7 linked regions of the Homo sapiens genome follow. The protein of the gene in region 2 purifies or fractionates together with the protein of the main gene of each other region. This does not show direct contact. Each region holds a gene or a part of one and is shown on either strand. Other genes may lie near its edges. The genes, in order: NT5C3A, UNC93A, ICMT, ECPAS, TNPO1, TUBGCP2 and BZW2.

What was found.
Region 1: the proteins of UNC93A (region 2) and NT5C3A purify together in Homo sapiens (affinity purification with mass spectrometry; one large-scale study listed by BioGRID and IntAct). This does not show direct contact.
Region 3: the proteins of UNC93A (region 2) and ICMT purify together in Homo sapiens (affinity purification with mass spectrometry; one large-scale study listed by BioGRID and IntAct). This does not show direct contact.
Region 4: the proteins of UNC93A (region 2) and ECPAS purify together in Homo sapiens (affinity purification with mass spectrometry; one large-scale study listed by BioGRID and IntAct). This does not show direct contact.
Region 5: the proteins of UNC93A (region 2) and TNPO1 purify together in Homo sapiens (affinity purification with mass spectrometry; one large-scale study listed by BioGRID and IntAct). This does not show direct contact.
Region 6: the proteins of UNC93A (region 2) and TUBGCP2 purify together in Homo sapiens (affinity purification with mass spectrometry; one large-scale study listed by BioGRID and IntAct). This does not show direct contact.
Region 7: the proteins of UNC93A (region 2) and BZW2 purify together in Homo sapiens (affinity purification with mass spectrometry; one large-scale study listed by BioGRID and IntAct). This does not show direct contact.

Annotation. Positions count from the first base shown.
Region 1 is NC_000007.14:33,017,777-33,021,276, forward strand, and holds part of NT5C3A (cytosolic 5'-nucleotidase 3A), read right to left. Parts: coding exon 3,496-3,500; intron 1,949-3,495; coding exon 1,859-1,948; intron 1-1,858. UniProt on the Homo sapiens protein: Nucleotidase which shows specific activity towards cytidine monophosphate (CMP) and 7-methylguanosine monophosphate (m(7)GMP). CMP seems to be the preferred substrate.
Region 2 is NC_000006.12:167,294,315-167,297,814, forward strand, and holds part of UNC93A (protein unc-93 homolog A), read left to right. Parts: intron 1-202; coding exon 203-384; intron 385-1,717; coding exon 1,718-1,947; intron 1,948-3,500.
Region 3 is NC_000001.11:6,225,965-6,229,464, reverse strand, and holds part of ICMT (protein-S-isoprenylcysteine O-methyltransferase), read left to right. Parts: intron 1-3,500. UniProt on the Homo sapiens protein: Catalyzes the post-translational methylation of isoprenylated C-terminal cysteine residues.
Region 4 is NC_000009.12:111,372,884-111,376,383, forward strand, and holds part of ECPAS (proteasome adapter and scaffold protein ECM29), read right to left. Parts: intron 2,320-3,500; coding exon 2,230-2,319; intron 1,156-2,229; coding exon 1,089-1,155; intron 524-1,088; coding exon 432-523; intron 354-431; coding exon 287-353; intron 1-286. UniProt on the Homo sapiens protein: Adapter/scaffolding protein that binds to the 26S proteasome, motor proteins and other compartment specific proteins. May couple the proteasome to different compartments including endosome, endoplasmic reticulum and centrosome.
Region 5 is NC_000005.10:72,889,661-72,893,160, reverse strand, and holds part of TNPO1 (transportin-1), read right to left. Parts: intron 3,376-3,500; coding exon 3,204-3,375; intron 1,352-3,203; coding exon 1,265-1,351; intron 23-1,264; coding exon 1-22. UniProt on the Homo sapiens protein: Functions in nuclear protein import as nuclear transport receptor. Serves as receptor for nuclear localization signals (NLS) in cargo substrates.
Region 6 is NC_000010.11:133,278,135-133,281,503, forward strand, and holds the end of TUBGCP2 (gamma-tubulin complex component 2), read right to left. Parts: intron 3,303-3,369; coding exon 3,139-3,302; intron 1,768-3,138; coding exon 1,632-1,767; 3' UTR 501-1,631; downstream 1-500. UniProt on the Homo sapiens protein: Component of the gamma-tubulin ring complex (gTuRC) which mediates microtubule nucleation.
Region 7 is NC_000007.14:16,701,681-16,705,180, reverse strand, and holds part of BZW2 (eIF5-mimic protein 1), read right to left. Parts: intron 635-3,500; coding exon 512-634; intron 1-511. UniProt on the Homo sapiens protein: Translation initiation regulator which represses non-AUG initiated translation and repeat-associated non-AUG (RAN) initiated translation by acting as a competitive inhibitor of eukaryotic translation initiation factor 5 (EIF5) function.

The sequences.
Region 1 (3,500 bases), on a different chromosome or scaffold from region 2:
AACAGTTAACTCTTTACTTTCCCTTTAATCAATTCTAATACTACAAACTAGATGTCTTTAAGCTTTCACTGAATATGAATATAAACCTACAGTTCACAATTTATACCATTTAAAAAGAAATAGGCAGGCATAGCAGTGCATGCCTATAGTCCCAGCTATTTGGGAGGCTGAGGCTTGAGGATTGCTTGAGCCCAGGAGTTCTAGTCCACTCTGGGCAACATAGCGAGACCCTGTCTCTAAAATGAAATTTAAAAAGAGAAAACAATAGTTAAGCTACACCTTGAAAACCCCACTTAGGGGTTAAAACATGGATATATTAACACTGAGAAGGATGGAGTCCCATAGTGGGCCTATCAACTTGGCCTAACTTAATGGATATATATTGACCAACAACAAATACATTTACATGATTAAAATATTTTCAGATTTTAAAATTATGAAGAATGACTTGATATTCTTACAGTTTCATCAAAATCCATAAAATTGAAAAGAAAAGCAGAGTGGCAGGAACTTAGATGTATTCTCGACATCTGGCATGTGTCTTTACTAAGATCTTAAGCCCTCTTCCCTTTTTTACCCTTCCTGGGCCATAGGTTAAAGAATGCTAATGTTGCCTACTAAGGAATGAAACACTTACTAGCTGTCCTCACACTTTTTCTGACAATTTATTGCTTTCCTTTTTAGAAGTAATCACCTTAAAATATAACATCATCATAAAAAAGTAACATCATCATATTTGCCTAATGAGTTGAAAATTTTACGAGGTAATAAACAGTATTAAACAGGCTCTTGGGCCGGGCGCAGTGGCTCACGCCTGTAACCCCAGCACTTTGGGAGGCGGAGATGCGCAGATCACAAGGTCAGGAGATCGAGACCATCCTGGCTAACTCGGTGAAACCCCGTCTCTACTAAAAATACAAAAAATTAGCCGGGCGTGGTGGCGGGCGCCTGAAGTCCTGGCTAGTCAGGAGACTGAGGCAGGAGAATGGCGTGAACCTGGGAGGCGGAGCTTACACCACTGCACTCCAGCCTGGGTGACAGAGCGAGACTCCATCTCAAAAAAAAAAGAAAAAAAAAAGCTTCTTGTATCTTATAACTCATGCATACATATATAATTATGTACTAAAACATACTAATCTTTCCTAGGAATAGTTTTCAAAGAAGTTCGAGAATTTAAAAAGTAGGCTTATGTAAATTTAGACATAGTATACTGCCAGGCATGGTGGCTCACACATATAATCCCAGCACTTTGGGATCGCTTGAGCTCAAGAGTTCAAGACCAGTCTGGGCAACATGGTGAAATCCCATCTTTACAAAAATATACAAAAATTAGCCAGGCATGGTGGTGCATGACTGTAGTCCCAGCTACTTGAGAGGCTGAGGCAAGGGGATCGCTTGAGCCCAGGAGGCAGAGGTTGAACTGAGGAAGAGATTATGTCACTACACTCTAACCTGGGCAACAGAGAGAGACCCTGTCTTTAAAAAAAAAAAAAAGTATACTTAAATCCCTTTTAACTTGATTTATACATTCCTTTCATATGTCTTTCCTAAGTATTTTGCTAAAAAATTTTTAAATGGCCTTGGTTCAAAAATTTTAAGTCTTGACATTTTTAATCTGGAGAAACAAAATACAAATTAGAATTTAAATCTCATAAGGCTCTTACTACCTACACCAAGATCTAATACGTCATTCTAAATTCCTTATCTTACCACTATGTATTTTGTGATAGGTGGCATATTTTGGATATGGTTATATAAGGAATATTCAATCTTATTTTTAAAAAGTACAACTGACTACATAAATAGCAATAATTCAAGTCTGTGAACAATAACAGCAAAAAACATCCAAGAAACTTACTTGAGCATAACGTCAGATTCTGCCACAATTTCTTTAAGTTTAGCTTTTGGTAAAGCTTGCTGAACAAGCAAACCATGTGATTTAGTATACCTGGAGTTTATGACCAAAGGAAAAAAGACTATCAATTAAGACAAACTAAAATTATTATCTTTATTACAAAACATTCTTCCATGTGAGAAAATCTGTTCCTCATATTTGGATTTAAATTTTAGAGATTGAAGTTCATCACTAATGAATGTATACCTCATGTCTCAAAATGTGATATGCATGTTCTTACTGAGTTTCCCAGTCCTCCCAAACCCAGACTTAGCTTAAATATGTTAGTAAGGTAATGAAAGGAAACTAGCTATAAACCTTTCCTAATTCTACACATAAAAACTCAACCCAACCTATGGAAGCATAATCCTTTCTCTGATTGCAGTAAAATGAATTAGAGCAACCCCATTTTTAAAATTTGTTTGTAGTTTGAATTTTCTACATACTGAAGATGCTACTTAGTGAACAAGAGAGAAAATCTTTGTTATGGCAAGTGTCATATACAGATTAGCCTGCTTTATGTAGAAAACACCTATAATCATAGCATCTCAGTATAAAGGGCCCTTAGACTCTCTAACCCATTACAATTATGCAAACAGCCACTAAAAACAGAAAGAAAGAAACGAAAAGAAAAAAAAGCCTAACTCTTCATCTGATACCTAAAAATACCCCTATAATATTCCTAAGTCACCTTCTTCCCTGCCTGGGTCAGCTTCTAACATGTCAGTAAGCTCATTCTCCCAGGGAAGCTTATTCCATTGCCAGAAAACTCTTAATTGCTAGACAGGCTTTTCATTTCTCATGCTGAAATCAATCTTCTTATATCTTCCAAGTCTAGTTCCAGTTCTGCTGCTACCAGTTTGTAGAGTTAAGTCTAATATCTTTTCAACATTTAGTACCACAAATACAGATGAAGTATGCAACTGTTACGTAACGGGACAATAAAGACAAATCATTCCTGGTCTCCTAAGATTTTAAAACAAGTTGTTCCTTCTCAAATCAAAGCATTTTCTATTCCTTGAAATGTTCGTCAAGTGGGAAGGCTCAAATTCCTCTGATCATTCTGGTGGACTACTCTGACTCCTTTTAAGTTTGTCATGATCTATTTTTTTTTTTTTTGGTCACTATTGTCATGGTTTCTCTTAACAGCATTCTTCCAGAATCCGACACAGTGCTTTCAGTGTGATCTGCCTGGAACACTGCATTTTGATTAATGCAACCAAAGGTCGATTTTTGGGTAACCATATCACCTGCTGGCTCTGAGTTCAGACTCAGTTTAAATCCTCATACCTTTTCTTTACACATTAAGCCACGTTTTGTTCATATACTTAAAAAAAAATTCTTGTTTTTAATTTGAGACTTAAATGCAGGACTTTTAATTTATTCCTACTGGACTTCACCTTAAATAAACAAAACAAAAGGATTCCTAAACTGTTAGAGAGATTAGATAATTAGAGCTCATTTTGTTATTCAATGCTCTAACTTGCATAATTTATTAATCTGTTTGTTTGCAATACAGGTAAAAAATAAGCCATCAGTTGTAACTGCAGTGTTGTTTTATTATTTTTTTTTAATCCTCCTACTGCCTAATATACACTTACCATTC
Region 2 (3,500 bases):
AGACACACTAACTGCTTTATTCCGAATTCACCTGCACTTTTCTCCCACCAGCTTCAGAGGAGGCTCCCAGGGCAGCAAGCCTGTGGCTGGCGGTTCCTGGGAGCTGTGGCGGCCTCCAGCCTGGGGGACACTGAGGACCTGCTGGTGCCTCATCCCGCTGTGTCCATCCTGTGCTCTGACAGGGCTGGCTTTGTTCCCACAGAGCAGCCTGTACAGCGAGGAGGGCCTGGGTGTCACAGCGCTCAGCACCCTCTATGGAGGCATGCTCCTGTCCTCCATGTTCCTCCCACCGCTCCTCATCGAGAGGCTGGGCTGCAAGGGGACCATCATCCTCTCCATGTGTGGCTACGTGGCCTTCTCCGTGGGCAACTTCTTCGCCAGCTGGTACGCAGCCACCACCCCCTGCCCACCCCACCCCGGCCGTTCCCCACGCTAGGGACGTTCACTCTGCACATGAGTTGCATTTGCACCTGATTACTGTTCACTGCAGGCATTTTAAAATGAGCTCTCCTGCCCCTGCACCCCCGCCTCGCTTTGGTGACAGACGGTGCTGGGCTTCCTTCCTGTTTTCCCACCAAGGCTCCTCTGTGCCCCCCACTGCTTCTGTCTCCTCCTCCCGATCCCCGATGCTGGCCTCTCCCTGGGATCCGTCCTGGTCCTCAGCTCCCCTGGCTGGGCGAGGGTTCCAGTAACACAGGGGACTCTAACTGCAATGCAGATGGTGAGTCTCGTGGGCACCTAGGCAGATGTCACCAATGGACCGAAAGCTGCACCTCGCCCACCATTAGGAGGTGGGTATGGCCAGGGCAGGTCACAGGGATGGGAGGCCACCCTGCTCCCTGGTGAGATGGACCACAGAGACTGAGCTCTGAGGGCTTTGGCCTGCACCCCAGGCCCCGGGAACACAGCCATGGAGCATCTCTTCCAGGGACCCTGGTTGTGCCAGGACATGCTGCTGATGATGGCTGCAAGTCCTTCTTCCCGGTAGCTGCAGAGTCTTACATGGCATGCCGCCGCTGAGGCCCGAGCCGGTCACTAGGTCTTTTTAACCGGGGCTGTCCCTCGGCCTCCCTCGTGCTCCTCGCCTCCCTCGTGCTCCTCGCCTCCCTCGTGATCCTCGGCCTCCCTCGTGCTCCTCGCCTCCCTCGTGCTCCTCGCCTCCCTCGTGAACCTCGCCTCCCTCGTGATCCTCGCCTGCCTCGTGCTCCTCGCCTGCCTCGTGCTCCTCGCCTCCCTCGTGCTCCTCGCCTCCCTCGTGATCCTCGCCTGCCTCGTGCTCCTCGCCTCCCTCGTGCTCCTCGCCTCCCTCGTGCTCCTCGCCTGCCTCGTGCTCCTCGCCTCCCTCGTGATCCTCGCCTGCCTCGTGCTCCTCGCCTGCCTCGTGCTCCTCGCCTCCCTCGTGCTCCTCGCCTTCCTCGTGCTCCTCGCCTCCCTCGTGCTCCTCACCTTGTTGTTTGCAATCGCATCCGATACAAGGAGCCTCACTGGCTTCAATTTCACTTTTGCAAATCAGTCCAAGCTAGGAAATGCACTGATATTGCTCATTTTTCTGAGTGTAATGGTGAATCCATCCATCCAACCAGCAACACTCATCACCACGCTTGCAATGGGCCAGGCGGTGGTTCCTTCTCCCAGATTGACTAAAGAACTGCAGGGACATGGGTGCAATGGGCTTGCGTCTCCTGTTACAGGCTATGGGTCTGCATTTTACCCACAGGTACACTTTGATCCCCACCTCCATACTGCTGGGACTCGGGGCCGCCCCGCTGTGGTCTGCACAGTGCACATACCTCACGATCACGGGAAACACACATGCAGAGAAGGCGGGAAAGCGTGGCAAAGACATGGTGAACCAGTATTTTGGCATCTTCTTCCTCATATTCCAGTCATCCGGTGTGTGGGGCAACTTGATCTCATCGCTGGTATTTGGCCAGACTCCCAGCCAAGGTAAAAGGAAAAGGGGCAAGCAATTGTCTCCAAGTGGAGCAGGGGTTTCAGTGATGGGGGAGAGGGTTCCTGATTTCAGTTGCACACCTGCCTTGATTCTGTAACTTGAGCAGGTGAGTCAGGCCCCACAGGTGAGATTCTCAACCTGCCTGTGCTTCAGAGTTGCCTGTTACCTGCTGTCTTCTGGACAGTCGGGTGGGACTGAAGAAGATCTGCGTCTTCCACAGGTGCCTCCGCAGGGGCAGGGGAGCCCTTGGGAGAGGGCGCCATGGGAAACTGAGGGCCACGCCAGTAGAATTTGTGTTCATGGAGTCTCAACTGCACAACTGTCCTTTTTAGACTAAGGATGGGGTTGCCTGATTTCTTTTCCCTGTGACTTGATACAATGACCAGATTTTCAAATGTTTTATGACAGGCCCCTTATCCCATGACAGATGTGGACATTGGATGGGCTGATGCCCTGGCTCCTCTGTCTCTACCCGACCTTGCCCTGGTATAAATATAAAGTGCATATCTCATTTGTGCCCATGACCTTAGTGCCCACGTTGAGGCTTTAAGCACAGGGCAGAGGACATACATCTCTTTCATGCTTACAGGAAAACTTTCCCAACGGGGTAAAAACCAATCCAGCCCTCCTGACTAGTATCACAACTATTTCTATCACTTCATCAAGGTTCTCCATCTTGCTATCCCATAAAAATCCCACGCTTGGTAAACTCTGTAGCCAAAACCCCTCTCCCTTTTTCTCATGCGATGTCATGCCTGCTAAGTGCATTTGAAGAAGGGAAGCCGTGAAGGTGATGCATAGCAATTTTTACTCATTATTGCTGTTGGTGTCAGCAACAATGAAACAGAAACTGGGGTTACAGCTCAGTCTGCATATCACGGCCAGTGAAGTGGAGGAACAGGCATTTCTTTCGAAGACCTTTCTGCAGGTGAGTTAGTTCTCCAAGTCAGCACAGGACACAGAATCTGGGGCTGGAGGGATTTGGAGGGCGTCGTGTGCTTCTCCACCTTCTTGTACCTTCTCTTATCAGCTGCACATCTCACCCACCTAGAAGATTTTGTGAAGCTGTCTGTTATATAATTTGTGTTATTAAAATAATAAAAACACTGAATATTCTTTCTCCCACCACATCTTTCTCCTTTCCCCAGAGATTCTGACAGGACTTCTGACTGAGAGTCATTGCTAATTCAAATTGTATTTTTCTAAGAGATCACAGAACTAACGTTAGTTTTCAAAAACAGAAAAGTTATGAAATCACCTGCCCAAAGTCATTGAGTTGGTAACAGATGAATCTGAAAGAGAATCCAGCATTCCTGGCACCCAATCTCATGTACTTTTTTCTTTTTGACTAATTTTGAAAACTTGAAAAATTTTAATTATGTCAGAAAAGCAGTAAAACAAGTAACCAGCACTTTTCCAAGTTCATTCTTCCCTGAATCTTTGCAGAACACGAATAGGATTTTCCACCTCCCAAAGTGTCTTAAATCGAGTCTAGGGACATGTGCCTAGACTCGATCTAAATCTATTTTGAGACACTGGGTCTTTC
Region 3 (3,500 bases), on a different chromosome or scaffold from region 2:
CTCTTGTTGCCCAGGCTGGAGTGCAATCATGTGATCTCAGCTCACTGCAACCTCTGCCTCCCGGGTTCAAGCGATTCTCCTGCCTCAGCCTCCTGAGTAGCTGGGATTACAGGCATGCGCCACCATACCCGGCTAATTTTGTATTTTTAGTAGAGACGGGGTTTCTCCATGTTGGTCAGGCTGTTCTCGAACTCCCAACCTCAGGTGATCTGCCTGCCTTGGCCTCCCAAAGCGTTGGGATTACAGACATGAGCCACCATGCCCAGCCCCTGGCTAATTTTTGTATTTTTGTAGAGACGGGGTTTTTCCATGTTGCCTAGGCTGGCCTCGAACTCCTGCGGTTGAGTGATCTACCCGCCTCGGCCTCTCAAAGTGCTGGGATTACAGGCGTGAGCCACCACATGTATTTCTTTTTCTTTCTTTTTTTTTTTTGAGACAGAGTCTCACTTTGTCGCCCAGGCTGGAGTGCAGTGGTGCGATCTTGGCTCACTGCAACCTCCACCTCCCGGGTTCAAGTGAGTCTCCTGCCTCAGCCCCCGCGAGTAGCTGGGATTACAGTTGTGCACTACCTCGCCCAGCTAATTTTTTGTATTTTTAGTAGGTTTAGTAGGGGTTTCACTGTGTTGGCCAGGCGGTTCTCAAACTCCTGACCTCAGATGATCCACCCGCTTCAGCCTCCCAAAGTGCTGGGATTACAGGCGTGAGCCACTGCATCCAACCCGCATATTTCTTTTTTAAAATTACTATTTGGCTAGGCACAGTGGCTTTGGGAGACCAGAGCAGGAGGATTGCTTGAGGCCAGGAATTAGAAACCAGCTTGGCTGGCCGGGCATGGTGGCTCATGCCTGTAATCCCAGCACTTTGGGAGGCTGAGGCAGGCAGATCATGAGGTCAGGAGATCAAGACCATCCTGGCTAACACAGTGAAGCCTCATCTCTACTAAAAATACAAACAATTAGCCTGGTGTGGTGGCACGCATCTGTAGTCCCAGCTACTTGGGAGGCTGAGGCAGGAGAATGGCGTGAACCCGGGAGGCGGAGCTTGCAGTGAGCCGAGATCGCGCCACCGTACTCCAGCCTGGGCGACAGAGCGAGACTCCATCTCAAAAAAAAAAAAGAAAAAGAAACCAGCTTGGCCAACATAGTGAGAACCCTTCTCTCCAGAGGAAAAAACTAAAAATATATCTGGAAGTTGTAGTGTGCACCTGTAGTCCCAGCTACTCAGGAGGCTGAGGCAGGAGGATCGCTTTGATTGCTGCTGTACTCCAGTCTGGGCAACAGAGTGAGACCCTGTCTTAAAAACAGAAAACAAAATTATTTATTTGTGTATTAAAGATGAGATCTCGCTGTGTTGCCCAAGCTAGTCTCAAACTCCTGGGTTCCAGCAGACCTTCTGCTTTTGTCTCCTGAGTAGCTGGGACTATAAGTGTGCACCACCATGCCCAGCTAACTTTTTGTTTTTTGTAGAGATGGGGTCTTAGTGTTGCCCAGGCAGATTTTGAACTCCTGGGCTCAAGCAGTCCTCTCACTGCAGCCTCTCAAAATGCTGGGATTACAGGCATGATCCACCATGCCCAACCCAAAGCCTTATTTCTTTTTTTTTTCTTTTTGAGACAGAGTCTCGCTCTGTCGCCCAGGCTGGAGTGCAGTGGCGCAATCTCGGCTCACTGCAAGCTCCGCCTCCTGGGTTCACGCCATTCTCCTGCCTCAGCCTCCTGAGTAGCTGGGACTACAGGCGCCCGCCACCATGCCTGGCTAAATTTTTTGTATTTTTAGTAGAGACGGGGTTTCACTGTGTTAGCCAGGATGATCTCAATCTCCTGACCTCATGATCCACTTGCCTCAGTCTCCCAAAGTGCTGGGATTACAGGCGTGAGCCATCGCGCCTGGCCGCCTTATTTCTTGAAACTGTTTCTTGATTCTTTACTCTTGGTCCTAGAAAAACTTGGCCAAAGAATGTGAATAGATCTTGGAAAATTCACGAAGTGTTTGGGAAAAGTCTCCAAGTCTTTGGGCAAATCCAGAGATCTCTCAGGCATCCCATCAGCAATGCATGGTCCTTGGTGACTCTGGTGACCCCTAACGGTATAGGTGGGGCAAATGATCACATAGCATTTACAATTTTTGTTTCTGAAACATGTAAAACCGCCACATTAACAATCACCTTCCCTGGGAACAAATTAGTTATGACTGAATAATGTAATTTGCCATAAATGCTTGCTTCCTGTATATGTGTGTGCACTAGAACCAAAGGGTTTTCCATACCTTTTTGCCCATAGATTTTTTTTACATTGTGCTCCAGCACTTGTGTGTGTATGAAAGGAACATGTCTTTCCTGATATAATACTTACACTTACTGTTTACAAAATCCTGTTTTCTATCTTATTATTTCAATACTGTTCATAATGTACTAAATGATTTCATGGCTTAGTAACAGGCTGCAGCCTGCTATAGAGAACTCCCACTGTAGGGTATCCCCAGCAAGCTATGCCAGATGTGAGGGTACAGGCCCCGGAGTCACTGACTGGGCCAGTCCTGATTCTGACATTCACTGCTTGGCCTCCTTCTCCTCTCATGTTAAAGTGGGGGCAGCTAGACATAGTGGCACATGCCTGTAGTTCCCCCTACTCTGGAAGCTGAGGCAGGAGGATGGCTTGAGGCCAAGAGTTCAAGTCCAGCCTGGGCAATATAGTGAGACCCTGTCTTTAAAAAATAATAAAATTTTAAAAAAAACAAAGTGGGGATAGTAGCGTGCCCTCAAAGGTTTGCCATGAGAGTTGAACAGGGTAATGATTGTAAAGGGCTTAGCATGGCGCTGGGAACATAGTAAGTGCTCAATAAGAGAAGGTGTGAGAGGTCAGGACATGAGCCTGGCTCTCCGGGTGGCTGTATTGGAGCCTAAAATATATATTCAGAAAACATACAGAAAATGTATGTTGGGGAAGATGCACATCCACAGGGGACCAGTGGGCAGGTGTAGGTGAGTGGTTCCCTGAGGAGCTGGGGAATGCTTTTGGCCTTGAAGGACTGTTTGGCTGGAGATCAGTGGGAAGGATGTTCTTTGTTTTTTTTGAGAGGGAGTTTCGCTCTGTCGCCCAGGCTGGTATGCAGTGGCGATCTCAGCTCACTGCAACCTCTGCCTCCTGGGTTCAAGCAATTCTCCTGCCTCAGCCTCCCAAGTAGCTGGGATTACAGGCTCCCACCACTACGCCCAGCTAATTTTTCTATTTTTGGTAGAGACGGGGATTCGCCATGTTGGCCAAGCTTGTCTCAAGCTCCTGACCTCAGGTGATCTGCCCTCCTTGGCCTCCCAAAGTACTGCAATTAACAGACATGAGCCACCGTACCTGGCCAGGATGTTCTTAAAGGTGGAAGAAAGGGCCAGGAGTTCGAGACCAGCTTGGGCAACATTGTGAAACCCCATCTCTACAAAAAATACAAAAATTAGCTGGGTGTGGTGGCATGTGCCCTTAGTCCCAGCTACTTGGGAGGCTGAGGTGG
Region 4 (3,500 bases), on a different chromosome or scaffold from region 2:
TAACCAGGCGTGGTGGCACGTGCCTGTAGTTCCAGCTACTCAGGAGGCTGAGACACAAGAATCGCTTGAGCCCAGGAGGCTGAGGTTGCAGTGAGCTGAGATAGCACCACTGCACTCCAACCTCAGCGACAAAGCCAGACACCATCTCAAAAAAAAAGAAAAGAAAAGAAACAAATGTTTCTAGCAAATCACATAAAATCATGGAGGGTAAGACCTAATTTGTACTGTTTTACTGGGCTGTTAACATCTAAATTTAAAATGACATAAAATAGAAAAAGAAAGGTACCTTCTTTCTCCATATACCACCCATTGAGCTTCTGCAGGAGTTTTTCAGTGCTGCTATCCCGTGAGGTCTGAAAAAGAAACAATCCTAAGTATTTCTTTATAACTGTCAAAGAGTTTTATTTAACTAAGCAAGAAATTTAACTCACCCGAACTAAATGGCCCATAGCAAATGCACAAGATTTCTGAATCACACTGTTCCGATCTGTCAGGCCACTCAGCAAAGCACTCATAAGTTTACCTACCAGAAATAAAGAGAAAAAAATCTGATACTTGGTTGACCAAATGTTCCACTCTGTTCCCAGAACCCAAACAAACCTAACCCTGTAATTAACATCTGATTTACTCCACAGTAGTTTAGATTTCTGGATGTTATATTTATATATCCATTTGCTTCCTTTTACATGATATAAAGTTAAAATTAAACTAGAATATCGTGGAAAAAGATGCAAAATAAGAACGAGGTATATAAAGAACACTAGTCCAGTCTAGAAGCCAATCTAAGAAGAGAAAAATGCTGATGTAAAATCAGCTATCAATGGTAAGTCCTGTGGAAAAGAGGATACTTTTACCTCCTTATACCACTAAGGAATAATCAAATGTTTATGAACAGTGAAAAGCTGCTAAACTTGATAAACTCTGCACCTCCTGCAGACAAAGAAATGAAGGAGTCAGGGGACTGAGGGGAGAAAAGGCACACAGCATCACAAGCAGGTCTGAATGATAAGTATTTTTCCTTTTTAAAACTCTGTCACACAAGACAGGGCTGTGCAAAAATATCACCACACATCCCTTGACAAACTCACCTGAGTAAGGTGTTAGGTCCTGAGGACACTGAGTAGTTAATGACACAATGACACTGGCACAGCCACCCTACAGGGTTACAAAAGCAAAGGTCTAAATCTGATGGTCACAATGTTCTACCTACCAAACCATTGGCTTAGGTGCCAAAAATTTAAACATATAAAATACATGAAGCCTAATACCCCCTCCAGGACTCAATATAGAAAAAGGCAAACTCTTAAACTAGTAATGCAGCGATTTTTTTTAAACCTCCAAGAGAAAGATGGGTGATCTCAGACATTGTGAAAAAGAAAGAAAACTGGTACAATCTTCTGGAAAAGCAAAATATGTCATCTTGTCCATCACTGTGCTAACATTTCCATTTCCAGAAATTTAACCAAATATCTTCAGGTGTGCCTGAAGACACTCATCACAGTGCTTTACTATTTTTTTCAAAAACTGAAAACAAATCAGATGTTCCTTGATGGAGTAAAATAAATGATGTTACATCCATACAGTGGAGTATCATACGGCCATTAGAAGAGGACACTGCAGAAGATACATGTGCAGAAAAGACTGGAAGGAAACACTTCAAAATATTAACAGCAGTTATCTCTGTATGGCAAAATTCTGGACAATTTTTATTTTAACTTTCTCCTAATCTATAAATGCTAAAATTTTAAAATACCAGCAAGTGTTAATTTTGTCATAAGAAAAAATGTGAGTTATTAATTTGTTGTTAAAAGGGTGGTAGGGGGGTGTCTGATCCTTCAAAGATCTTGAAAACTAGGACATTTTTCTATTCAAACACTGCTGACCCCTCTGTGAAAAATGCAATTGCCACCTAAAACAATCCATGCCCTAATAACTGGATGTGCATTTCCATGAACTGCTAATGAATGACAACCCAGAGGGTATGTACACGGCAACCAGAGAACAGAAATGATTCCACTAAATAAGTTAATACTTACTGGAACAGTTAGATGTTTTATTTCTTGAACCAGTTACATGTTTTCAGTTATCAGTGCAACCACAGAAATAAAATGGTTAGTGTATAATATTAGATTTTGTGGTAAAACATGAATTTCAAACATGATGGCTGTTATATCCTTATGGCCAGAACTAATGAAGATGCACATTTCCTCTTGTGGAAAGTACACTTACCTTAGTTCCAAGACCTACACCACTTCTGATCAGTTCACACAACCTAGGAACTAGCTCGCCCAGCACTGACACATCAAGGTATTGCAGGCACTTTTGAAAAAGGACAAATATAAAGGTAAGCCTTGGCAAATAAGTCAGGACCACATCTTCAATTAAAAACTGCCCTTGTCAAACGTGTACCAACTGGATTTGACATGAAGTTGAAAAATCACTGCTTGCTTCTGCTCTGATTTCAATATTAAAACCACTATTGTACTACAAACAGAAAAATTATTCATCAGTGATTCAACACTAAAAACAAACAAAAAAATGAAAAACATCAATTTGCTAAAAAAGAAAAATAATGATTACTCAAGAATGAAGAATCTTTCTGGGCCTACTTCCTCTTTATCAATCCATGTTTAGTATAAAAAACCTAAACTAAATATTGATCTTCTACAGTGGGCCTACCCTACCAAACCCCCTCTAATGAGTCAACTTCTTAGATGACTTTTCCTATAAATTGCTGGCCTTTATTTTTGAAAATGCAATTAACATGTTTTCTATTACTAATGAATATAACTAAATGGTATTCACTAACTATTCCTATTTCTTTAAATTTTTATTTCCCCCCAATAATCCAACTAAGACATAACATTCTTAGACCAAATTTTGGTAATACTCCCCCAGCAGGCACTAAAAAATAGCTACTTCTCTTCACCAGTTTAACATAGTTTTTTGTACACTTCAGTTTTTTTAGGGGTTGGATCTATACCTTCAGAGTCCTGCTAAAGGTACAGATCTGCTTAGCAAACTAATTTCCAGTAAACACAATCATAGCTAACTAACCATTACAGGGAATGCACAACAGAGTAACTTTACCAAGACTCCAGGAAGTTTAGAAATCAGAACCTCAGAATGCCAAGCAGCCCTTTACTGCAAATGCCTTCCTATGACTAAAACAACATATCGACATTGCCCAATCTCTTCACATACCTTTATGTTACCTACTTCATTAAATACCTCCACAGCTTATAACTTTCCTAGTTCCTCCCAAAGATAACTATTAGGCACAGGCACAACTCTGAACCTTTCTAAATAGGCAGATCAAAAGACTACAGATGTAAATTTATAGAGAGCTCTTGATATGTTGTTGTCTCTTGTAATACAAATTTGGACCAACTGTTTCTGGTATTTGGGGAATTATTTATTCCACTTAGTAACAGAGAAGAAAAGAGAAATATACTAAGAAAAAACTGGAGTCACAACAGCTGCTTGACTCATCCCATAAG
Region 5 (3,500 bases), on a different chromosome or scaffold from region 2:
CTGTGGCAACTGAAGATAGGCACTAGGAAGAATAAAGTACACATGCTAAACTTTCTGGGTATACTGAAGATTATGATGAATGCTTGAAACTGCGCTCAACAGGATCCTGATCATTTATGAGCTTGCTCTACTAGTTTCTACAGTAGCAGGTTCCCCTCCCCCCACCCCAACCCTCTCTTTTGGAAGCCATTCATTGTTGTTAGTTTGCCAGCCAATCAGGTCAGGTTTACTCAGAGGAAGCGTTTCTACAAGAAACATTATCTTTAAAGGACAGATTGAGTATTATGTGTTCATATTTTTCCCTCAAATTGAAGAGATTCATTTCATGCTCCCATCCTGGTCAATGTTGTGAATGGACTTTACTGGGCACATTCTGAGATCCTGCCGGAAAGTAATATATATACAGTTGGCCCTCTGTATCTATGGATTCAACCAATCTTGAATCAAAAGTATTTAGAAAAACAATTAAAATGATTTAAAGTATATTGGGAGGAGGTGCATAGGCCATATGCAAATACCACATCATTTTATATAAGGGACTTGAGCATCGCTGGATTTCTGTATCCAAGGGGAGTCCTGGAAACAATCCCCTGCAGATACTGAGGGACGACTGCATACAAAAAATGAACCATAATGATTCTTCTTGTTTTGCTGGGCCCAGAATTGCTCTTGGTCATAGAAAATTTAACTTCTTTGGCTAAGAACAATCCACGGTAGAAGATGGTGAACCTTGAAATAACAGGGAGCAAGAATGAAAAGGCCTGAACTGGTTCTATCAATGTCAATTCAACTAAGTTTAAGTGACTACATTTCACAGTGTGTTCAGTTACGAGAACATCATATAAAAGTTTGCAATGAAAGGGGTGTTAAAAAAAAAAGTAGTTAAGTACACATGGAAACATTTTCAAATTTGAAAATAAGTACCTCCTTACTGGCACCAAATCCCACTACTCAACATATATGTATGAGTGAAAAGATATATATATATATCCCGGTATATATATCCTCCCAGTATGTTATCTACTCTATACTATATAGAGTAGTATGCTATCTACTCTATATAGAGAGTAGATAACATAAGAGAACTTAAAACTCTAATTTATTATCAATTAAGTAAAGCAGGTTAGAGAACAGTATGTATCATATAATTTCCTCCGTCTACTTCAGAATATAAATTTATTAACACTTTTCTTATCATATATACCCATTTTGGATTTGAACATGTGTTCTTGGCAACAGATTAAATATTACTAGCCCTGCATACCTCAAGTAAAGGGAAGAGATCTTTATCTTCATCCTTTAACATGTTCCATTTCTGGATCAGTGGAGGCATTAGCATCTGAATATATTCCTATTTACAATGATGAAAAACATATAAAATTCCACTATCACATGTCAACAAGACCATTTTGAGTCTTTGAAAATTAAAATCCATTTTGAGCAATTGTGTAAAATCATTACAAAAGGCATTTTAAGAGTCATTCTTCACTCTGCACAGTCCCTTTTAAAGTTTTCCTTTCTGTTGCCTACCTTTATACTTACATGACCGTGTTCTAGTTTTAGATCTAGAACTAGTGATCTACTGATCTTTTATCCTTGTTGAAAAAAAGAGTCTATCAATAAACACACAGCTAATCAAAATCTATTACTTAAAAAAGTCACAATCAAGGAAGATCTAAGTTTTTCTCTTTTTTTTGAGACGGAGTCTTGCTCTGTCGTCCAGGCTAGAGTGCAGCGGCGTGATCTCAGCTCACTGCAAGCTCCGCCTCCCAGGTCCACGCCATTCTCCTGCCTCAGCCTCCCGAGTAGCTGGGACTACAGGCACCCCCCACCACACCCGGCTAATTTTTTGTAGTTTTAAAGAGACAGGGTTTCACCGTGTTAGCCAGGATGGTGTCGATCTCCTGACCTTTTGATCTGCCCACCTCAGCCTCCCAAAGTGCTGGGATTACAGGTGTGAGCCACTGTGCCCAGACCTAAGTTTTTCTCTTTAAGTTACAGAATATTTTTAGTTCTGGGGCTGGGCATGGTGGCTCACACCTGTAATTCCAGCACTTTGAGAGGCTGAGGCAGGCAGATCACTTGAACCCAGGAGTTTGGGCCAGCCTGGGCAACATGGCAAAACTATCTCTACAAAAAGTTGGCCAGGAATGGTGGTACACGCCTGTGGTCTCAGCTACAGGGGAGGCTGAAATGGGAGGATCGCTTGAGCCCGGGAGGTGGAGGTTGCAATGAGCTGTGATCACACCACTGCACTCTAGCCTAGGTGACAGAGTGAGACCTTGTCACACACAAAAAAATTCCTTTTAGTCATGGAACTGTAACGTGTAATATGGCTGTTACTATATAGTACATTTTTAAATCAACAGGTAAACTTACACAGATGCTTTTGTAGAAAAACAAACTTAAAATCATTTAAGTGTCAAACTAAAGAATGATCCATAAAACGACTAAACATAGTGATCATGTAAACAGGGGCACAGACTCTAAAGACATTCAGAAAACAAACCCCCACAAAAGCCAAACCAAACAACCAACAGCAAAGCAAACCTATAAACTGCCCTGTACCAAATCTTAAGTGTAACTTAAAAATAAAACAATTTCTTAAGACTTTGGATATAGCAATCATATAGAAGTCTATTCAGCAGGGTATGTGGAGCTATATTAAAATTCTACTATCACTTAAATCCTCATTAGACAAATCCATCCTCCTCTTCTACTAACACTACTGGAAACAAGGCACTTTTGCATTACTATTTAGCATTTTTAAACCTACTACCCCAATTTCTATTTGTTTTATACAGTATACTCCCCGTACCTGCTGAAAAAACAAAGATGTCTAGATATGGTACTCTAAAGCTACAGTGTTTATGAAGTGGTAGATTCAAAAACATTAGGAATTAAGTAAAAGCAGATATCCAGATTATAAAAACTTTTTTATCCCTTTGCTTTAGTCATTCTAAAAAGTATCAGAGCATTCATGTGAAATGCTGCTGTAGTTTCCACACCAAGTATGTATTTACTTTAAGAATACCACATGAAAGGGGATATACTTGCTGCCTTTGTAAGATCTATACTCTTAAAGTAGCTAACGCTAACTATTCACATCTCCCAAAACATCTTAATTTCCAAATATATGCTAATCTATTAATTGTAACTATGCTACACATTATTTTCCCTAATAGTTCTTAACAGATACTTACTGGTTTGTTTAAATGATGTCCTACTGAATCTGCTAATGTTCCTATGGCATCGTAAAGAATGAGCAGGTTCTTATGCTGGTATTTACTAAATGCAAAGACCAGGGTATCAAGTATATAAGCAAGGTAAGGAACAAGTTCTGTACAAGCCTCCTCTTCTAGGGTAGCAAAGGCACTGTTTAAAAAAAAAAAAAAAGAATACTTATTGACTGTAAGATATATCTAACTCTTAATTGCTAAAATGTTTATGTTCTGTTTTACCCAATCAGGAATTTCCTAAAATGGTCTAAGCCATCTGTT
Region 6 (3,369 bases), on a different chromosome or scaffold from region 2:
ACTGGCCTGTGCCTGAGCTCATGCAGGTGACCCTGTTATTATAGAACAATGGCCAGCTGGCAATCACACTTCCCTTCCTTGACCTCATGGTGCAAGTTACTCAACAGCAAAGTGCAAAGGCGGCACGCTGGCCACATCAGAGGCACAGCAAGGCCCCTGCCGACGCTGAGCTACCAGGGATTTATTCCTAAAAAGACAGGACCAGCTTGGGCCAGAACAGGCTCCTCCCGCGCTGAGGAAGTTCCACCCAATCCCACAGAACACAGCTCTCCTCTTCAGCAGGTGCCGGGGGGTCTGGGAGCCTGAACCCCACAGCCCTGGAGGCTTCCCTCCCCTCCTCCTATCACCACCTGCAAACCCCACTTCTCAAGGCCCAGGGCTTCCCAGACCCCAGGACACAAGATCAGGGGTTTCTGGGCCTCGGGGCCAGGCAGGAAAGCTAGCAGGCTCCTCTGCTCACCAGTCCGGCATTTGCACAACACTGAGACTGACAGCTTGGGTTGCTGATAAATGTGTTTACTCACAGGCCAGACCTGCACAGCCTGCAGACAAGGAGGAAGCGGTTTGTGGCTGGAGAGTTGGACACCCCCACCCCCACTCGGCGGTGCTCTCAGTGAGGCAGCCCCGGGTGAGAGCTGCCCACAACCCTTGTTCCCCGCAGGATCCTGTTCTAGCTATCCTTTCTCCCAACCTCGCCTCCAGGGCCCTTCCTCACTGCCCAAGGGGGCCGAGGTGCTGAGAGCTGAAGGTGACAACAATACACATGCAGGTCAGCAGGAAGGGGCAGCTTGGCCAGAATGTAACCAGAGCAGACCAACCTGGCCGGGCAGCCCTGAGGCTCCCAGGGCCCTGTCACACTGGGGATGGCGGTGCTGCCCACTGTAGCCCTGGAGGTGGGAAGACAGGGCAGATGATCGCCCGAGGGGGATTGGGTGTCAGTCTGCTGAGTAAGTTCTACGTAACAAGGCGGTACCGGATAGGGCGGGGTGGGGTTTCCAGCCAGCAGCAGAGCCTGCCCCTCGACCCACTCCCACGGAGGGGGAGGTGTGGGCTCCCAGGGTGCCTGAGGGCCCTGTCTGTGGCCTCCTGCCCTGGACCAGTTGGAGCAGCAGCAGGAGGAGGGTCGTGGAGGCGGGTGAGTCCTCAGGAGAAGGAACGGGGCTGCCTCTGGGGCCAAAGCAAACCCGACACCCGATGCCCGGTGGGTTTCCACAACTCCCTGACCGTTTCCAGAGGCTTGTCCCGGTTCCGACAGACCTCAGGAAGCCCGGCCCCAGCTCACCCGGAAAGATGTGGACACCAGGCCTGGATCTTACCCCACATGCATCTTTGCTTGCTCCTGGCTTAAACACCATGTATTTCCACTTTGAGGCCAAAAACACCCAAAAAGGTGATAGTGTAATTTCAAAAAGCAAACAGATTAGCAAATCCAGGGAGACATCCACCCTGCCTGGGCAGCTTCTATAAAACGAAACCCAGCGCCTTGAGAAACAAAGTGAGCTGAGTCAATCATTCCTGCTTTATATTTAAACTGCAAAGACAGAACACAGAGCATTCGATTTGAAAATTCTGGACCCATTTGCACCAGTCCCTGCTGACCCCACACCCTTCCTTCCTGTCACAGCCAGGGCTCACTGTGCGGTGACTGCGACCCTGGGTGCAGGAGCCGGGGGCCCCCGCAGGACAGGCACTTGGGGGGTGGCCTTCTGGCTCCTCTCTGCAGACAGGCGCTCCAGGCGCTCCGTGTAGAAACCATTGAAGTCAAGCCTGTGAGGAAGGACAGTGGAGCTGGGGTGCACACCCCTTCTGCGGGTGCATGCTGGGCAGCAGGGGTGTGGAAGGACGGTGCAGCTAGGGTGCACACCCCTTCTGCGGGTGCGTGCTGGGCAGCAGGGGTGAGGAAGGACAGTGGAGCTGGGGCACACACTCCTTCTGCGGGTCCGTCCTGAGCAGCCCTGCTCCTACCATGGGGAAGTGTTCAGCTACAGAGACCATAAGAGGCCCTGCAGGGGTGAGGGTGAGGCACGCTCCTAACTAATGTTTCCACAGGAAGGTTTTCAGTCCTGTTCAGTCCTGCTCAAAGGCACAAACACAGGTTTCTTCTCTCCTGGCCCCAGAAAGTTGGGGCTCCCATCACCCCAACAGGGCCTAGCAATGGGGCCTGAGGTGTCAGGGGCTTGGAGAACCAAGCAGTGGTTCTCAATGCAGGGTGGCCTCAGAAATCCCTGCTCAGAAAATCAGAACATTTGTGGGGGGCACAGGGCACAGGGTGGTCCAAAAGCACAAATAGGCACCTTCCCAAGGACAGCACCCCCAAGGGCACCACCCCTTCCAGGCTGGCAGTTTGGCCACCTGGCCCTTTCCCCCAGGCTAGGTGTTAGTGCAGCATGAGGGAAGCTGACCCAGGCCTGATCAGCCCCACAGGACACACACAGCCGCAGGGTGCCAATGGGGCAGCCCAGTTGCACAGAATGTCACACCCCAGGGAGAGCTGGGCTAGCCTGACTTCAGGGAGTGGCATATGACCAGCACTAGCACCAGGACACAGACCTGCCCCACCTTCTGAAGGAGGCTACACCAGGTGGACCAGGGGAGGGTGCAGGGGAGATGGGGCCTGGATGCAGGGACAGGTGCTGAGCTGGGGTGGCGCTGGGCTGGGGCAGATGCTGGGCTGAGCTGAGGAAGGGCTGAGCCGGGGCAGGCGCTGGGCTGAGCTGGGGGAAGGCTGAGCCGGGGCAGCACTGGGCCAGGGCGGTGCTGGGCAGGGGCAGGCGCTGGGCTGAGCTGGGGGAAGGCTGAGCCGGGACAGCACTGGGCCAGGGCGGTGTTGGGCAGGGGCAGGTGCTGGACTGAGCTGAGGAAGGGCTGAGCCAGGGCGGTGCTGGGCAGGGGCAGGTGCTGGGCTGAGCTGGGGGAAGGCTGAGCCGGGGCAGCACTGGGCCAGGGCAGTGCTGGGCAGGGGCAGGTGCTGGGCTGAGCTGGGGGACGGCTGAGCAGGGACAGCACTGGGCCAGGGCGGTGTTGGGCAGGGGCAGGTGCTGGACTGAGCTGAGGAAGGGCTGAGCCAGGGCGGTGCTGGGCAGGGGCAGGCGCTGGACTGAGCTGAGGAAGGGCTGAGCCGGGGTGGCGCCCACCCACCTGGAGATGACGCTGGCCATGCCGTGCTCACAGTCACTGGTGCTATAGATGCTCAGCCGGGCCAGGAGGTCCAGCAGGTGGGCTGAGAAGTTCTTGTCAAACTTGTTGATGGTGGCCTCGAAGCCGGACACCAGCTGCACAGTGTCTGCGTGCTCAGCCAGGTGCTGGAAAGAAAGCCGGGGTGCGTGAGCCATGCCCACCCCCACCGTGGGCCTTCTTGGCTCCACACTG
Region 7 (3,500 bases), on a different chromosome or scaffold from region 2:
TTCACTATGTTGGCCAGCCTGCTCTCAAACTCCTGACCTCAGGTGATCCACCCACCTCTGCTTCCCAAAGTGCTGGGATTACAGGTGTGAGCCACCACACCTGGCCTGAATTCACTCTTACTCATTATTATCCTTCCACTTTATATTTCCATTATTTAAAATTGCCAGTTAATTGGTAAAGGTGTCATAAAAATCTATAGAATTCCATAATGCGTGATTAAGCTAAATGTATTTTTCTCCTTTCACATCTACTAATCATTTCTTCCTTATTGTCCTCCATCAGAGTGGATAATTTAAGCATTTCATTTCTTTCTTTGTTTTTACATGTAGAGATTTTTATTGCCGTGATTTCAGAAAGGAAAGCTAAGATGTTGGCAAAATGTTTGATACGAAAGATAACTCTAGAATTTTAGTTTTAGAAAATCAAGTAAAATCTGTGGAAGAGGTAAATATTTTGACATATAATGAGACAGTGTTTAAAGGTCATCAATGTTTGTAAACAGAATCATACCTTCTTCTGCATTTTGTAACCACTCAACAAATTTCTTCATCTGGTCAAGAAAAACACTTTTGCCTTTAGCAACATGTGCTTCCTTATACCATTTCAGTATTGCTTCTTCGCTCAGAACATCAGCTGCAATTTTAAATCAAAGATTTCAAAGTTACTATACAAATGTCATGTTTCAAAACAACTTCATGTATTACAGTTTAATAGAAAGCAATCATTTTAAATATAAAGCATTCTGTTACTTATCAGAAGAGAGGAACCAAGTTGATTTTCATGTAGCATAGTGCCATATTTTGATAGCTTACTAAAGGCTTAAGTACTGATGATGATGATATACATCTTCTTAGGCATGATATAATGCAAGCCTATAGCTCACTACTAGGACTTGGAAATCTCTCACAGTGCTAATTTGCTGGTAGGAAATAGAATTGTTTTGTAATTTTGCAAATGAACCAGCAATTCCAGCATTTTAGAACATTTTGGGTCCTGCCAAGTTCAACCATATCTTGATTAAAGAGTAACCTCAAATGACCAGTGTCTTTTAAGGAGATTGGGATTTTCTTTTTTTAGGAGAAAAATGACAAAGGAAAAAAATGTAGATAGTATGCAATAATGATGTTAGCAATTAGATATAAAGAGGAACTTCTGGGCTATGTTGTGGGAGTAATACACACCTAAACTGAAGTTCTACACTTTCTCCATCACTAAATCACGACTTATTTTCCCACAGTATATCCCAAATTACAAGAGTAATATTTTTCCTCTACTACATTAAGACAAAATAGACATATTAGCTAATTTCCTACAGGTTTCTAAAAACAACAAAAAATGTTAACTATCTTTTGTCTAAAACTCTAAATTCCACAAATGTGCCTTGATATTCTCAACATAACATTAATTGAGAGTATTTAATGTTAAGAATAGGAAGGAGAATATAAAAATAAGTGTACATAGTCTCCCAATGTTCTAATGGGTTGTTCTAACATTCTTCTAATGTTCCAATGTTCTAATGGGTTGTTGTTTGGGAATCTGTAGTGGGAAACGAGACAGAAAACAGGTACAAAGCATTTATTATTGTCCCCGAGATGTGCTCAATTCATTACAAATACTGATAAAGCCATATAATGTTAATAAATTACTTTAATGATATCTTTTCAGTTAAAATATAATTTCAACTTATGAAAATGACAGAAACAATTTAATATTGTTTTCATTTAAAACATCACTGGTAGTTTCATAACAAAAACATTGGCTTTTTTTATTTTTAAAGAATTATTGGCTCTTGGAAAATGTTCTTGAATTAAATTGAAGAGGCTGAGCTGACTAAAATGAACATGATTTGTTTATGAAAATAAAAGGTTTTTTAAAAAAACATGTTTATTATCATCACTAAAAACATTACATTTTGCAAAGGAAGCAAGAAGTCTGGATTTACTTATAGAGCCTGGATGTAAGAGCTACAATCAGGGGTCCTGTAGACTTATTCTTAGCTTCTAGTTATTTTAGCTCTTTGTTTCCAGCTCTCCACTGAGATAAAAGAAATTTCTACCAGCCATCAGAGCCTAATTGTCATAGAGCTGAGGAGCAGGCAGTTGTGTCCCGAGGAAGTGACCTGTTATTGTGTAAGACTGCCTTGCAGAGACTTTTAAAGAACATTAACAGGGATTTTAAAAGACCCTTTTATATAACTTGTAAATTATCTTTAAGATGCTTATGATTAGATCAGTAATTATCAAACTGTTTGGATCATGTCTTCCTGCCTGTAGGATAATTTTGAGCATATACACCCAACATATGTATATTTTTGAGTTTATAAATTATATTCATGCACTATTAAACTATCATTATTAATGTTCTGCACAAACAATATAATTTTAAACTGTGACAAACATGGAAAGGAGAATTGTTTTTTTTCTCCACACCTTAATGAATTGAGGATGATACAAAGTACAGGTTGGAAAGCTGATGTAGACTGCAGTTTAGTGATACTATTTGTCTGAGCTTTCCTTTTGAAGGTTGAGAGCACATTCCTGTGTTTTATTGCCTCACAGAGGCTGAAGGAGACCATGCAACTACTAAAATGCTTGTCAATGTCAGTGCTTGTGAAAAGCACACTAAATGATAGGTAAAACCTATCAAATGCATTGTTTATTGCAAATCTTGTGCCTTGATATTCTTAAGTTACCATTAATTGAGAATATTTAATGTTAAGAATAGGAAGGAGAATTTAAAATAAGTCTACATATTAACGGCGCAATGTGGAGTTCTTAGAAGAACCCAGGGTAGTAACAACTACTTGCTGAAAGATCAAACTTCTAGTACCAGAGAATTATTAATTAAAAGCTACTGAAGTATCTACACAGAGCACCATATGAGGCAAAGTATGAACATCGAAGAGTTTAAGAAGAAATTAAACTTCTATTTAGTGAAAGGAAAGGTCTGAAAAGGAAGGAACTCCTTGAGGGACAAAGAATTCAGACAATTTTTTCCCTCACTAAGGATAAAGTAGGGAAAAGAGTTAATTAAAACTGAGAAACCATTTTTGGTGGGATATTTCATAAATGCCTATTAGGAATATAGAATAACAGTAAAAGACAGTAAGAAAGGAAGACATTGTATGATGGCACATAGAGACTGGAATATATGTTTTCCCCTTCTATCTGGCCAACTTCTTCATAATGTCTGGTGAGATACATGTACCTTGAGAGCCTTCACTTCTCCCCCTCCAAATTACCTTTAACAAGTTAGGTGCCCTCCCTCTGTGGTCCTATCCCTTCTGACACCCTCTGTGTGAGGCTTATTTCAGCAATTGACATGGTGAGTGTAATTCTTTGTTTTCTTCTACATCCTGAAATTCAGGAAGTCAGGGACTATATTTTGTTCATCTCATTTCCAGCATTTAATGAAAGACCTGCCCTATAGTATCGATTCAACACACGTTTAAGGAATAAATTTGTTAACTTGATGAGAAAAAATAAATATTTCTCAATTT